2 linked regions of the Homo sapiens genome follow. The protein of the gene in region 1 interacts with the protein of each later gene in a biochemical or structural test. Each region holds a gene or a part of one and is shown on either strand. Other genes may lie near its edges.

The links.
Region 2: the proteins of HTR2C (region 1) and APBA1 form a complex in vitro, tested with the Homo sapiens proteins (2 studies listed by BioGRID and IntAct, with this or other methods).

What each region holds. Positions count from the first base shown.
Region 1 is NC_000023.11:114,727,051-114,734,087, forward strand, and holds part of HTR2C (5-hydroxytryptamine receptor 2C isoform a precursor), read left to right. Parts: intron 1-3,571; exon of another isoform or gene 3,572-3,726; intron 3,727-4,243; coding exon 4,244-4,557; intron 4,558-7,037. UniProt on the Homo sapiens protein: G-protein coupled receptor for 5-hydroxytryptamine (serotonin).
Region 2 is NC_000009.12:69,445,355-69,452,391, forward strand, and holds part of APBA1 (amyloid-beta A4 precursor protein-binding family A member 1), read right to left. Parts: intron 6,948-7,037; coding exon 6,768-6,947; intron 4,443-6,767; coding exon 4,230-4,442; intron 1-4,229. UniProt on the Homo sapiens protein: Putative function in synaptic vesicle exocytosis by binding to Munc18-1, an essential component of the synaptic vesicle exocytotic machinery. May modulate processing of the amyloid-beta precursor protein (APP) and hence formation of APP-beta.

The DNA of each region.
Region 1 (7,037 bases):
CTATATGATCAGCTATATTTGCCTAAATCTGCATAAATGGCTTGCTTCCCAAAAGACTAATATTATGGGTGTTTCCTATTCAAAAATAATTAATGGAAAAAAAAATTTGGACTCTAATTAAGCACTTGAGCTCATATACTTAAACAAGTAATATGGTGATAATGCCCTAAATTCAAATAATCTCAATGTTCATGGCTACTTTTTCCATGGGTAAAACTTAGAAAGGAAAAATTTCTGTCCTTTTCCTTCTTGCATGAACTGAACAGTTAAGAGAATGAAATGCCTCTGGTTTTGTGAAGAATAGTTGAGGTAGGAAAAGAAAAGGTTGGAAGTTAGGGGATAGGGCTTGGCGATGTAGCTGGATGGGAAAAACCAATGTCATCCTCAGAAGTATTGATGCAGTGACCCAGTTGCAGCCAATAATATACAACATAAAGGGTGTAGGTAAAGATACAGGAGATTCAAATAATAAGCAATTCTAAATTTGATCTAATCCAGGTATACCTTCTTTTTACATAGAAAAATGTTGGTTTCTTCCGAACCTGCTTTTTGAGGAACGAAGCATAGAAAAAAATGATCCAAAGCAATGTAAACTCTGATTGGTATAGTTGAGAAACCCCAAATCTCCTTGCTCCTAGGTAGTCTCCTTTATGATTCTTGTAAAAGAGCTCACCCAGGAAAAAGTTTACAATGTGGTGGAGATATAAAGTTCAGCAACATTGGATCCTCTGCAGTGTGCATCACTGTGGCCCATCTTGAGTGTCATTGTTGTGATGATAGTTTCAAGTATGGAAGAGTCCAAGAGAACTAGAGCAGACAACTGGGAAAGAAAAGAGTGAAGGACAGTGATAAAGAAGGGAAAAGAAGAGTTGGGTATGGGAAAATGAAAGGACAAGTGTTCCTGCTCCATGGGCCTGTGCCAACTTAGTATATAGCCATTGGCCCATATACCAAAGTGTAGGACTGCCGTAAAGGGCACCAAATTATTCTGCTATGAAATTAATTAAAGAATTCATATACAATTGTTTTAAATTCTATTGAGAGAAACAAGGAAGAATTCCTGTCTTCTAACAATGTCCTAGGTCATAGAAAAACTCAGTAGATTTTAAATATATTCAACTTTTTAAATTAAATTATCATTTTGTTTATATACTAAGAATGTAAAGTTATGTTTTCATTAAAACTTTAGTAGCAATGAGTAAATTATATGCATTTCAGAGAGAAATTATGACTTTTGTATACATATTTTATGAGATTCCTATGAGCTTAAAAACAATTAGGATAAACTTTAAGAGCAAGACCTAAATTACTCCTCTTTTGTAAAAGGACTTTATAATTTCACTGAGCATGTTAAGTATTAAAAATTAGATTTAATTATAATACAGACAATTCTTCATTACAAAACTGAAGAATAAAGGATTAAACTTTAATAAAAATCATAAAATCTTGTCTATAAGTAGTGCTCAATAAAAATTTATTAAACTGAATTTAATTGAAACCAGGAAAGTGAAGTAAATACTTTATCAAGATTTATCCTAACACCATTACCTTATTTTGTAATTCACAACAGATATGTTTACATCTGACAAGACTCCTTCCTTCAATAATTCAGTATTTGTCTTACAGATTCTTTTATTAAAAAAAAATTTTCTGACCAGTAGGGATAGGCTAGATAACTACTTGAAACAGTCCAAACTCAAAGATACTCAAATTATAAAATTCATAATTTGACATAATTTTCTTCGTATATGTTTCTGTTATATATAATTTGTCCTGTACCCCTCTACCATTTTTAGAGACATATGAATGAATTTCGATGTTTTCACAATTTACTTAGAACATTTGAGGCAGACTGCATATTCCCCTAGGACCTTATTCTATAGGTTTAAGGATAAATGTATTTGTCATTCTGCAATCAACAACTGAAGACGCAGTTTAGTATTTGAGATAAATTCTTGTGGGACTACTTGAGATGATCTTCAGCTAATTTAAAACAGAACATTGTTTTTTAAAATGCCAGCAGGACAAGTTTTTTATCAGCTAGGCCAGAAAGGACTCTGGAAAACGTGCTGGATTTAAGATTACTTTTTTGAGTCCAGTTCTTCACACATAGACGTCGTCTCAAAATAAAATCAAGACTTAAATTATCCTGGCAAATTTTGAAATACATGAGTTGGGATATAGCAAACATAAAATGCTTTTGTTTAACTACAAAGCAGACAGAAGGTACCTCCAGCATTTACTGAAGGCCTCTTATGACACAGGTATTAAAGTTTGACATATATCATTTAATTTTCACAACAACCATATGATGGAGATTGTTCTTGTACAGATGAAGTTGATGTTCTGATAGGTTAAGTGACTGGTCAAAAATTACTGAAGTCAGATAGCCAGGACATTGGCCACATGCCACATTCAATAAATACAGTGACAGAGTAATCAAAGCTGAGAGCGAATAACTTGCTTCTGTTTATTTGGTCCTTTATTTCACTAATTTTTACTCATATTAATCACAGATTAATTATGACATAGATTTTGGAATCCTGTATTATTTTTGCCTATTTTTTATGTTTTGGGAAAATAATACATTTGGAAGAATTTACTGATTACTTCTCATCATTTGATAAGAATTACGATTTCTCTGATAATGGTAGTCAGCAATGAGTCCATTAAATCACACATATATTATCCCTGCCTGGAGATACTATCTTCAGTTCAAAGAACAAGTGACTGGGATAATGACATAAAAATACATAATATGGAGAACACATAGACTCTGAATGTTATGTCATGTGTTCCATCTCCCTAATTTCAGAAAGAATCATCCTTCAACTATCTTGCATAGAAAATTATGTAGCATATATTGTGCAACCAGAGGCAATTTTCTCCTCTATAAATAATATCAAGGTTGAACAACCACTACATATAGGAAATGTATCCTCATGTTGCTGTTTAACATTAATTAAATAACTATTACTACACATGGAATAAACATAAATCACTCATTCACAGGTAATATTTCTTAGTTTTAAGCAGGAAATATTGAACATGCTTGGCTGTCTTGTCTATTTTATGAAGGAAAAAATGTGTAGCTTTATTAGACATTTTAGGAGCTTACACTTTGAGAGAATACTTATGTACATAACTCGAATAAATCTCATGTCGCCATAGGGGGATATTAATTTAGAATGTGCAAATGACAACCACATCCATCTCTGGCAATAGCCTGCCACCTGGCCTGAAATTCCTACTGGTAGAATCTACCAAAGGACCATCATGAGAAATGTACATTTCTAATGTACTTAAATGACTTAAGAGATTTAGTTCCAGTGCATGAAAAGTAACAAATCCATAGGCATTAATCATCACCACAAATCATTATCTAGCCTAGAACAAGGCCCACAAAATATAAGACAAGACAGAAATGTGGAGAGTGGCAGGTAGAAGGAAAGTTTATAGCACAAAACGTTAAGAAACAATTGAACCAGCATAATGGCACTTTGCAAATGTGAGAAGGTAGAAAAACTTCTGAAAAGAAATGAAAGGGTATTCTTGTCAAAACCCACTGTACCTCTTCCAGACGCTTTGCCGGAATTTGATCTGATGGCAACTTAATTCCTTCTTAGCCTTGGATCAATAGAATGCAACTTCCAGTTTCCTTGTTAGGGTCATGGATGCTTTAAGAAAATCCCCCTTCATTCTGTTATCAGCTGTCTCAGAACATATCTAAAGGAATCAGTATTTTAAAAATATAAAGAATAGACTATTACAGCAAATCAAGCAGTACTGTGGTTTCAGATCGCAGTAAAAGTTTAAAACATAGACTTTGAAATCAGTGGGACCTGAGTATGGACCCTGGCCCCGCCACTTACTGGCTGTTTAGGCTTGAAAAAGTTACTTACCCTTTCTGAACTTTACTCAGTCTTCTCATCTACGTGATGGATATAAATTAGAACTGACATCATGAGGTTGTTTAATAAGATCAAATGAGATTATACATATATGTTTCAGCAAACTAAGTGCCTAACTCATAATAATCACTCAATAAAAGTTGGTGATTTTTGGAGAGAAAGAAGAAATACTGAGATTAATTAAGAGAGTAGAAATAATGATGATGACAATGATGCTGATGATGATAATGATGACAATGATCCATGAAGAAGCAGTTGTTTTGCATGAGCAACGTATTGTGTATAAGTAATATAATATGTACCTGATTGTTTTTTTTTTTCTTAATTTTCAGTGTGCACCTAATTGGCCTATTGGTTTGGCAATCTGATATTTCTGTGAGCCCAGTAGCAGCTATAGTAACTGACATTTTCAATACCTCCGATGGTGGACGCTTCAAATTCCCAGACGGGGTACAAAACTGGCCAGCACTTTCAATCGTCATCATAATAATCATGACAATAGGTGGCAACATCCTTGTGATCATGGCAGTAAGCATGGAAAAGAAACTGCACAATGCCACCAATTACTTCTTAATGTCCCTAGCCATTGCTGATATGCTAGTGGGACTACTTGTCATGCCCCTGTCTCTCCTGGCAATCCTTTATGGTAAGTACAATTTTATTCACTTTTCAATCTCGTATAATGTCATAAATTTGTGTCATAGTAAACACTCATAAAGTTAATTATTTTACTTGTAACATTTGGAAAAAGAAAAAAGCAAATCGTGTGACAGAAGGAGTTGGATGTATGTATCATATTTATTAAACAAATCAGTAACAGTCTTCCAAAAGCAAAACATACATTTTATATATATTAAAATCATACATAGATGCTCTCTTGCTTAGTGTCTTTGTAAACAATGAATGAACAGTTAGTTGCCTTACAATGTACTGAATGAGACATTAACAGAAACATCTTTCAACCCCTGTGTTCTGGGCAGTACACATACCTACTACCATCTCTGATACAAAGAAGGAAAAACCGGCTCATCCTCTTTAATAAATATATTTTAAGAAATCCTTTTTTAAAGCTGCCAAACTAAGTGGTTGACACAAAACAGGCACTCAATAATAGCTATTCTTCTTGTTCATGGAGTCTATAATTTGTGTTATTACAAAGAGACAAGAGATAGCAAAATTAATTACTAAGTATATAAGTGTAAGTTCATATCATCACTTTAAAAATTCAGGCATTGAAAGTTTCAATATATTGATTTTAAAGAGGTTTTTAATTTTTCTTTTGATTTTCTTCCATCCCTTCATTCTGTTCATTTTAACCTAAGGTTTTGTTTCTAGCTAATATTTATGATGAACAATCAAATAGTTTATACAACTCTACAAAGTATCTTTACTAGGAAGTTGGAGAGCCCAGTTTGAATTTAATTGCTAATATGCTTATCTCACAAAGGAGTAAAATAGACTTCCAGTTGCCTGGAGTGTATAATGGAATTAGACTAGAAGAAATAATATTGAAAGTGTATCTAGTTGTCGAATCCTAAAAGAAAATAAATGCATCTAGAAAATAATCTCTCATGTAATGTAAAAATTAAGTAGCCTGTTCTATACCTATGGCAACAGTAGATTATCTTAATAGGCATTTTATAAAGTGTTCTCAGAATATATGCTTTTCATATTCTTCATCGAGTTTCAATGATGCATTAGCCTTAAAGCACTAGTATTTTATCTGCTCAGTGGGCATTTTACCACTCTATTGCTCCAAAATTAAGAAAAGATTACTGGAATGAAGTGAAACTATGATTTAGAAGGTATACTGTGTTCTGTGGTGTCTGTTTCGCCAGCTTCTCCCTTTAAAAAAATGTGAGTGGCCAAATAATGATATTAGCATAAATCCAAGTCTCTTAACATATCTATTCCCCTGCCCAAATAAACAAAGAACAATATAAAAAACAAATAAAACTGCACAATACCACCATTAAGTGTGGAGAACATTCAAATTTCAAATTACCTGTAAGTAGGAAAACAAATGGGAAATAACATTGAACTATCTATTAGACTTCTACCCCATGCTGTTGCGTAGAAGAAGAGTAGTCCAGGAAAGATAGCATGAAATAAACTAGAGGAAAGCTATTAGGAAGCCTAAGATTGATCTAAAACCACCACAGGTGGCCGGGCGCGGTTACTCACGCCTGTAATCCTAGCACTTTGGGAGGCCCAGGCTGGCGGATCACTTGAGGTCAGGAGCTTGAAACCAGCCTGGCTAACAGGGTGAAACCCAGTCTCTGCTGAAAATACAAAAAAATTAGCCGGGCGTGGTGGTGGGCGCCTGTAATCCCAACTACTCGGGAGGCTGAGGCAGGAGAATTGCTTGAACCTGGGAGGCAGAGGTTGCAGCAACTCGAGATCACAACACTGCACTCTAGCTTGGGCGACAGAGCAATACTCCATAAAAAAATTTAAAAAAAAAACCACCACAAGCAAGTAAGTCTACCCCAAGTACGAAAATACTGAAAAGTTTCTCTAGAAGGTCAGCTTTCAGATAAGGTACTGAAAAGTATGCATAAGACTCAAGAAAGCAGCCTTGGAAAATTAACTCTTTGGAGGTGGAAAAAGGTAAAAAAGGAAGCAAGAGGTGACTTGAAAAAAAAAAAGCACAGTGAAAGGAAAAAGAAGCAAGAGGGGGAAATTTATCATCTTACAGTACAGAAAATGTCAAAATATTAGGACCCATCACCCCTCCCTCTACTGTCTCCCACTGTCCCCCAAAGGCCCTCCAGTAAAGAAACCATACTTTGATACACAAAGAAAAGAGGATGCTCTTGAGCTTGGAATTTTGGAAGCTACCTACAAACTGTCAGTCATGTTCATAGAAATTCTGAGATGCAACCAATCTTCATCTATACCAAGCTACTATAGAAAAAAATCAGAATATGAGAATAGAAAGAAGGCATTTGATGAACATTCCCTCCAATAAAGAATGATCAAGCCGAAGAATATGCTAGCAAAACACTTCAAAAAAAATCTGCAAACAAGCATGTTAAGGTATTAAAAAATGTACTTTGAAGTAGTAATCTAATAACTAAGAATAGAAATGGTCAAAAAAATAGGACAGCATGAAGGAAAATTAAC
Region 2 (7,037 bases), on another chromosome or scaffold:
ATGTTGGGTCCCATTAACTTGGATTTCTGAGCTGCCATTTTATTGGAGGTGCCAATTAAATAAAGGGTCATTTGGTCCCCATGACAACAGTGGAACGGTACAGCAAATTAAGAAATCTGGTGGGAGGGGAAGCCCAGAGAAGAGGGGCGAAGAGAGAAAAGAGAAGCCAGAATGGTCTCTATAGCAACGGGAGAGCAGAACCATGATGCTCCTGGGGAAGCAAGGGAAGCTGTGCGCTATTCTAAAACAGAGCAAAAACCCAGAGGGCAGGACCACAGAGGCAAAGGCACAGAAAGAGGCAGCCTGTAAAATGTTCCACCCACCAATAATTATGCCTTGGGAATTAATTATGACCCAAAAAATAAGGTAGGAAGAGTAAGGCAAGTCAATACCTATAATTCTACTCTAGAAATTGATTTCCTGTAACCTGGGGGGACAATAGTCAACCAGTATTGAAGTGGCCAGATGCAGAATGCACACTTTGGATCCCTGTTCCTGAAAGTGTAGCCTGCAGACTGGTGATGCCATCCCCGCCGCAAAGCCTGCCAAAAATGCAGAATTCCACCCTATACCTGCTGAATCAGACCTGCATTCTAACAAGATCCCCAGGTGATTCCAATCAGTTTGAGAAGCACTGATTCATCAGGATGAGAGTTGCTTGTCAAAGTCACTGCAAAGAGCATGGACATACACTGAAACAAATTTGAACACAGCCTTGAAGTGGTCCAGATGCTGCTCTGCAGTGGCCCGAGGGGTGGGGGTAGGGCAGTGTGCACATCTGTCCAGGTGCAGGCAAAAAGGGGTGTGTTTTCTAGAGAATTTTAAAAAGGTGATACGACCCACTGATGTCAGTCTGTATTTGGTACTGGTGATTCTGGCTGTTATCAGTGGTTACACCTCCCACCAGCCAGGGTGGTCCACGGACGGACCATCACATTTCCCCATTCAACAAGCGGCGCACTGTGGCAGGGAGGAAGTTCAGCTGTGCTCTAATCGGGGTCTGCCCTGCTAAGTACTTCTTCACTATGGGTGGCCACGAAAGCACTGCTTTTCTTTTCTTACTCTTCATCTTCATCAGTTACATCTCTTTTATCACCACTCGGCCTTTTAATTTTCTGGTTCTATAGAGATTACATTTATAGACATCAAAGTTCAGCTCCTCAAACAATCCATTTCCCCTTAGGAAACTGTGCAGACAGAGCTCCGTCTGTACTCCAGCAAGCTTTGCTTCCACCTTGATGCTGTGGCAGCTGCAGAGGGAGTCAGGCTGCCCTCATAGCCTCACTGCTTCCCTCCTCTGGTCCCCACGCAGATAAGGAAGGAGCGATTCGCAGGAGGGTGGGGACTCACTGGCCAGCTGGGGGCCCTGGGCAAGTCTCCTGTGCCTTTAGAGTCTCTGATGGCCCATCTGTGCACCTAGCATCTGCTGTCCCCCTTGTGGGCTGTCCTGAGGAGGAAAGGAGGTGACTCCAGGCCATGAGCTGGAGTCTTAAGGGCCTCAGGAAGCGCGGCTTGTTCCTGCCCAGGCCCCATCCCCACCTTTACTTAAGTCCTCCCCTTGTCTGAGTCTGTTCTTAGTCTGCCATGACAAAGTACCACAGACTAGGTGGCTTATAAACAACAGGCATTTATCCCTCACAGTTCTGGAGGCTGGAAGTCTGAGCTCAGCGTACCAGCACTGTCAGGTTCTGGCAAGAGCCCCTTCTGAGTTGCAGATGGCCAACTTCTAGCATCTTCACATACCAAAAGAGAGCTTGCTGGGGTCCCTTTTTTAAGGGCACTAATCCCAACCATGAGGGCTCCACCCTCCTGCTAATCACTTCCTAAAGGCTCCACCTCCAAATAACATCACATTGGGATTAGGGTTTCAATATGTATTTGGAGGGAACACAAATATTACTCAATACTTTACTTAACCCCCTATCCCCGCTCCTCCTCCCCAACCCTTCTAGACTCAGACCAACTCCCCACAAACCATCCCTAACCAGCTTCCCTCTCTCATCGATTTCTCTCTCTTGCATCTGAACTCCTATGCCGCTCAGGCAGTTTCTCAACCTCAGCACTACCTACATTTGGGGCTGGATAACTCTGTGCTGTGGGGCTGTCCTGTGCATTGTAGGATGTTTGACAGTATCCCTGGCCTCTACCCACTGGATGCTGGCAGCACCTTCTCCTCCGTGACAACCCAAACAGTCTCCATACATTTTGGGGGATGAAGATCACCCCTGGCTGAGAAGTACTGCCCCATGGTCTGGCCTTGGGCCTAGCATTTCACCTGACACCCTCCCTGGGATGACTCTGTATTGGAGGCTGTATGACCACAGACGATTACATCATCTTGCTGTGCCTCAGCTTCCTAGCTTGTACAATGGGTACAAAATAGTACCTGCCCACAGAATGCTGCCCCGAAGGCTCAGCAAGTCAGTCCACACATATTCTCAGAGCATCCAGAGCACAGACACACAGCACTGAGCACTGTGAGCCATAAGTCCTTTCACTTCTCCTCAAACCGACCAAGCTCCCTGGGGGGCAGGGACTGTGTCCACGGGGCCCCTGGGTCCCACAGCCCCTCAGCAGTTCTCATGCATGCACCCAAGGTGTTTAATAAGCAACTTGCTCACTGGCAGGAGCGACTTGTGGTCCTGCCTCCCTAGCCCCACCCCCCCGCTTGCCTCTCCATGCAATCACAGCAACACCAGACCAGCCGTTCCGGGCCAGGCTCAGACCCCATCTCTCCCTGACTCAACACCGGCCCCTGTCCATCAATTCAAGCAGAAACTTCCAAACGCCACTTCCCTTTCTGCTACCTACCTAGGTTTTATTCCTTCAAGGTCAACTTTAAAATCACATAAAATTGTCCATCTAATCACTTGTAGCCTCTCACCTTTATGTTGGCCGCAGAGCCCTTGCACGTCTCTAATTATCCTGCACATGCACACTGGCAAGCCAGCTTCCTCAGAGCGCAGCTCAGTGCCTCACAGAGGCCCAATTAAACCTTTCTGAATGAATATCCATGTTCAAAGTTGATTCTCTAATCTTACCTTTAACGTGTATTAAGCAAGAGGTAGAATTTATTTAAGTATAAGATATAAGAAAAAGAAATTAAAGGAGGCCAAAGAGGACTATTTCTTTCCAGATGTGATTATCTTATGTGAAATTAGAATTTACTCCATTTCATTAAAAACAAAAAGTCACCATCCATGTGTCCTATACACTCACCTTCACCTCCCACCCCCACCCCCTTAGCTGAGGAGGCTGGCTTTGTGATTTTTCTTTTGCTCACAATGACTATTTGCACGAATTAATCCCCTTCCTTCTCCCTCTCTCTCACACATGCACATACGCACACAGCTATGTTCCAGCTAAGTCTTTCAGGAAACCCCTACAGGACCCCAAAAAACGCTGTGGAATCTCAGTCTAGCTACAGTACCGCAGCACTTGGTGCAGAGCTACTGGGGTCTACAGATGCCATCATGGAGGAGGAACATCCTGGTCACACTGGCCATGCATTCAGCAAGTCCCAATGTGCTCAAAAAACTCCACATGAATGCTTCATGTCTAAAGAAAATCTCATTTCTTCTCAAGTATTCACATTTAATTTTCCTTTAAGTAGCTCTTCTTAGCTTTATAAGCATCAGTTCAGGTTGAGCAGGAAGTATGCTCAGGTATGAAAAAGCTTCCATGGACTGGAAGAGAGTTTCCTCCTCCTTCTGGCAATGAGCACATGTGAGTTGCTTTACCCGGGGTCTGAGGGAGGACAAACTCACCTGCATCATAGTCAGGGCCACTGGGAAGGAAAAAGCACTCTCAGATTTGAAGCATTTCTGACATTTTTGACAGGGATGGTAAATCATGCCAAGTGTATCTGGCTGACTATAAGTGACTGTCTGGATTCCCAAGCTGAGGCCATTTCTGTTGAGGCTGAGTCTGGGCTTAGTGGGAGAATGCTGTGATTGACTAGTGATGCTGTGATGGACATGCTGCTATCAGAAAGTAGTGTCATGTGAACCAAATACACTTCCCCTAATCTAAATTGATTTCAGGGAAGAATCTGTAAACAGTAACTTGATGGTAAGCTTCCTGAGTGCAAGTCCACGCCTTTTGTGTTTGTGTCTTCCTTGGTGCCTGACACTTTGAATATGTTCATATACATTAATGACTGGATGGGGGTCACACTTCACATCACTTGAGGTTTACCACATCAACTGATTTTTCCCATATTCAGGTACCTTAATAATGCTCTGGCAGGTGGACAGAGGCAGGCCCACCAGGCTGGTGCCATTAATGGACATGATCTGGTCACCGATATTCAGCTTCCCAGATTTCTCCGCAGGGCCACCATGCATCATGTTGGCAATGATCACGGTGGGGAGGATGGATCCCCAGCCAGACTCCACAATCACCACACCTAGGATTTCTCCTTTCTGCTTCTCTATGAAAACCTGGAAGGAGAAAAACATTTAGAAAACCTCCATCAGTGACCATCTGGGGTAGGTAGAAATGAAAGCCTCTCCCCCATTCCTGTCTTGCCTAAAGAAAGACACTTCCCTGGGGACACCAACCCAGATGAGTTCCTGTCTTCTCAGCATTCCGCATATTTGGAGTTTTTAAGAAATGAATTCACACAGGTCTACACTCTTTTGTAATTCACTCGTTTCACATAAGCAAACTTGCCTCAGCACACAACCATGAGGACCACCAGTTTTTTTTTTTTTTTTTTTTTTTTTTAATTTCTTCAGTCCTGTCCTCAGTGGCAGGGGATGAGGCTCTGTGGGTGGGTGGTGTGTTATGGTTTCTAGAAATAGCTTTTCAAATTCCATGCGCAGGTTCCCCCTCCCACAGTGCTTCCCCAATTCGCTCCGACATTTAATTTTCTTGAGTTAAAAATAAATAAACACACAGAAACACTTCTCTGCAAGGAAAAAGTTGAGAAAAAAGAAAAAGTGATGCTGAAGTTATCACAACCAAAAGGCTGGGTGTGCACACAGGAAGTGCATATCCTGGATACACAGACTTTTCACAACCTTCACTGGCAGGGCAGAGAAGACAGGGGTTGATGTTGGATACTTGCACTCTGGGGAGGCCTGCAGATATGCCACTAAAAGGTACCACACCTCTTGGAAGCACCCAACAGAGTGTGTATGTGTATTTTTGGGGGGCTTGACAAAGTCCCCTTCACAGGTTGGTGTCTGCTTCCCCCAGCTGCTGAAGCTTACAGTCAGCCCCTTCCCTGGAGAACTGTCCTTAGCTGAAAGGGAGACACATTCTGTTAAGGTTGAATTGTGTCCCCCCAAAATTTGTATGTTGAATTACCAACCCCCAGTGCCTTTGACTTAGATTGTGACTTTATTTGGAGATAAGGTCTTAGCAGAGGTAACCAATTTTAAATGAGGTGATTAATATGGACTCTAATCCAATATTACTCATGTCCTTATTTAAGAAGAGGAATGGTTGTCTGTCATGGGTATCAAAAAAAAAAAGAGGAAATTTGGACATAGGGACATGCATGGAGAAAGGCTGATGTGAAGACACAGCATGAAGACAGCCATCTACAAGCCAGAGAAAGGCTTGGAACAGATTCTTCTCTCACGGCTCTCAGAAGGAACCAATGCTAACAACACCTTGCTTTTGGACTTCTGGCCACAAGGTCTGTGAGACAATAGGTTTGTGTTGTTGAAGTCACCCAGTCCATGGTACTTTGTGACAACAGCCCTAGTAAATTCATATACCCCCTGTCCAGCCTTGGCCAATAACCGGCATGGGGTACAAAGGCTTGCCAGCTCCCTCGCTCCAAGGTGAGACAAATCTGTCCTGCAATATGTGCCATGGAGCTTCCCTCTGGACAGAAGGAAGCTCATGTCCAAGGGACCACACCCTTACTTGGTGTCCCACCACCAAGCTTCCCACATCCCTTCTGTTCTGAGGCACTCTCCCAACAAACCTCTGTGACAAGAATCCCTGCCTCAGGCTCTGCTTCTGGGGAATCTGACCTAAGACACCTGACAGACCCCAGTGGATCAAATGATCACTTTCTCATTAAAAGTTCTTTTTACCTATGGGATCAAGTCCAAACCCCTCAGCTGGACTTGCAGGCCCTCCAGTTCTGACCCAGATCTCAGGCCCATCTATCTCCTTTCCTGTGCCTACCTCCTGCTCTAGCCAAACCGTATTTCCTCATTCCCTAGACAAATGTGGAGCTTTCTGATCTCCAGGCTTCCAACCATTCCATAGACCCCACCCTCGGCTTGCCCCTACAATCCCCAGATCGCCAGACCAGCTTGGATAGCCTCATCTTCCTACAGGCATTCCTGAATAGCTCAGTTTGAAGCCACAGGCCATCCCCAGAGAAGCACAGCACCTCTTGTCTGAAACTTGAGATCTTCTCTGTTTGTCCAAGTGTAGTTGGTTTTGATTAGTGCCTGTACCTGGCACCATCATTTAACTTTTTCAGTGCCCTTACCTAGATTGCAGTGTTTGTACAAGCAGAGTTCAGGTCCTATCTGCCTCTGGGACCCACCCAAAACTTAGCTCAGGATGACCAGGAGCAGAGGATGTGCTGCCTCTCTGTTTACACCTGTCCACAATAGCATTTCATGACAGGGCCCCACAGCAGGGAGCGAGAGATGGGGGTGAACGACTTCATGATGTCCTGCCAATACGGCACTCCTCACCATTGATCTCCCTTCACTTCCGCGGCAGGGTGCCCCACTTTCCAAGCCCCTGCCCAGCTGACCCAGCCTGGAGAACAGCTTCAGGTAAGTACCCACATCTTTACAGTTTTCCGACTTGGAGAAGTGGATCAGGTCATCGTTGTACATGTCCTGGGTATTGAGCAGGTCACTATACTCCTTCTGGCTGAGATCTTCGGGGTTAATCCCATTGGCCCTGAGGAATTCCTGGTATGCCACGCTAAATGCCTGTCCGATGGACTGTGCAATCAGCTGAGCCTGGAACAGCAGCCAGAGAGGAAAGATGGTCAGCAGGGCAGTGCACCTGGTGAGCGGCCTGGCGCACTTCCCACCTGAACAATGGCCCTC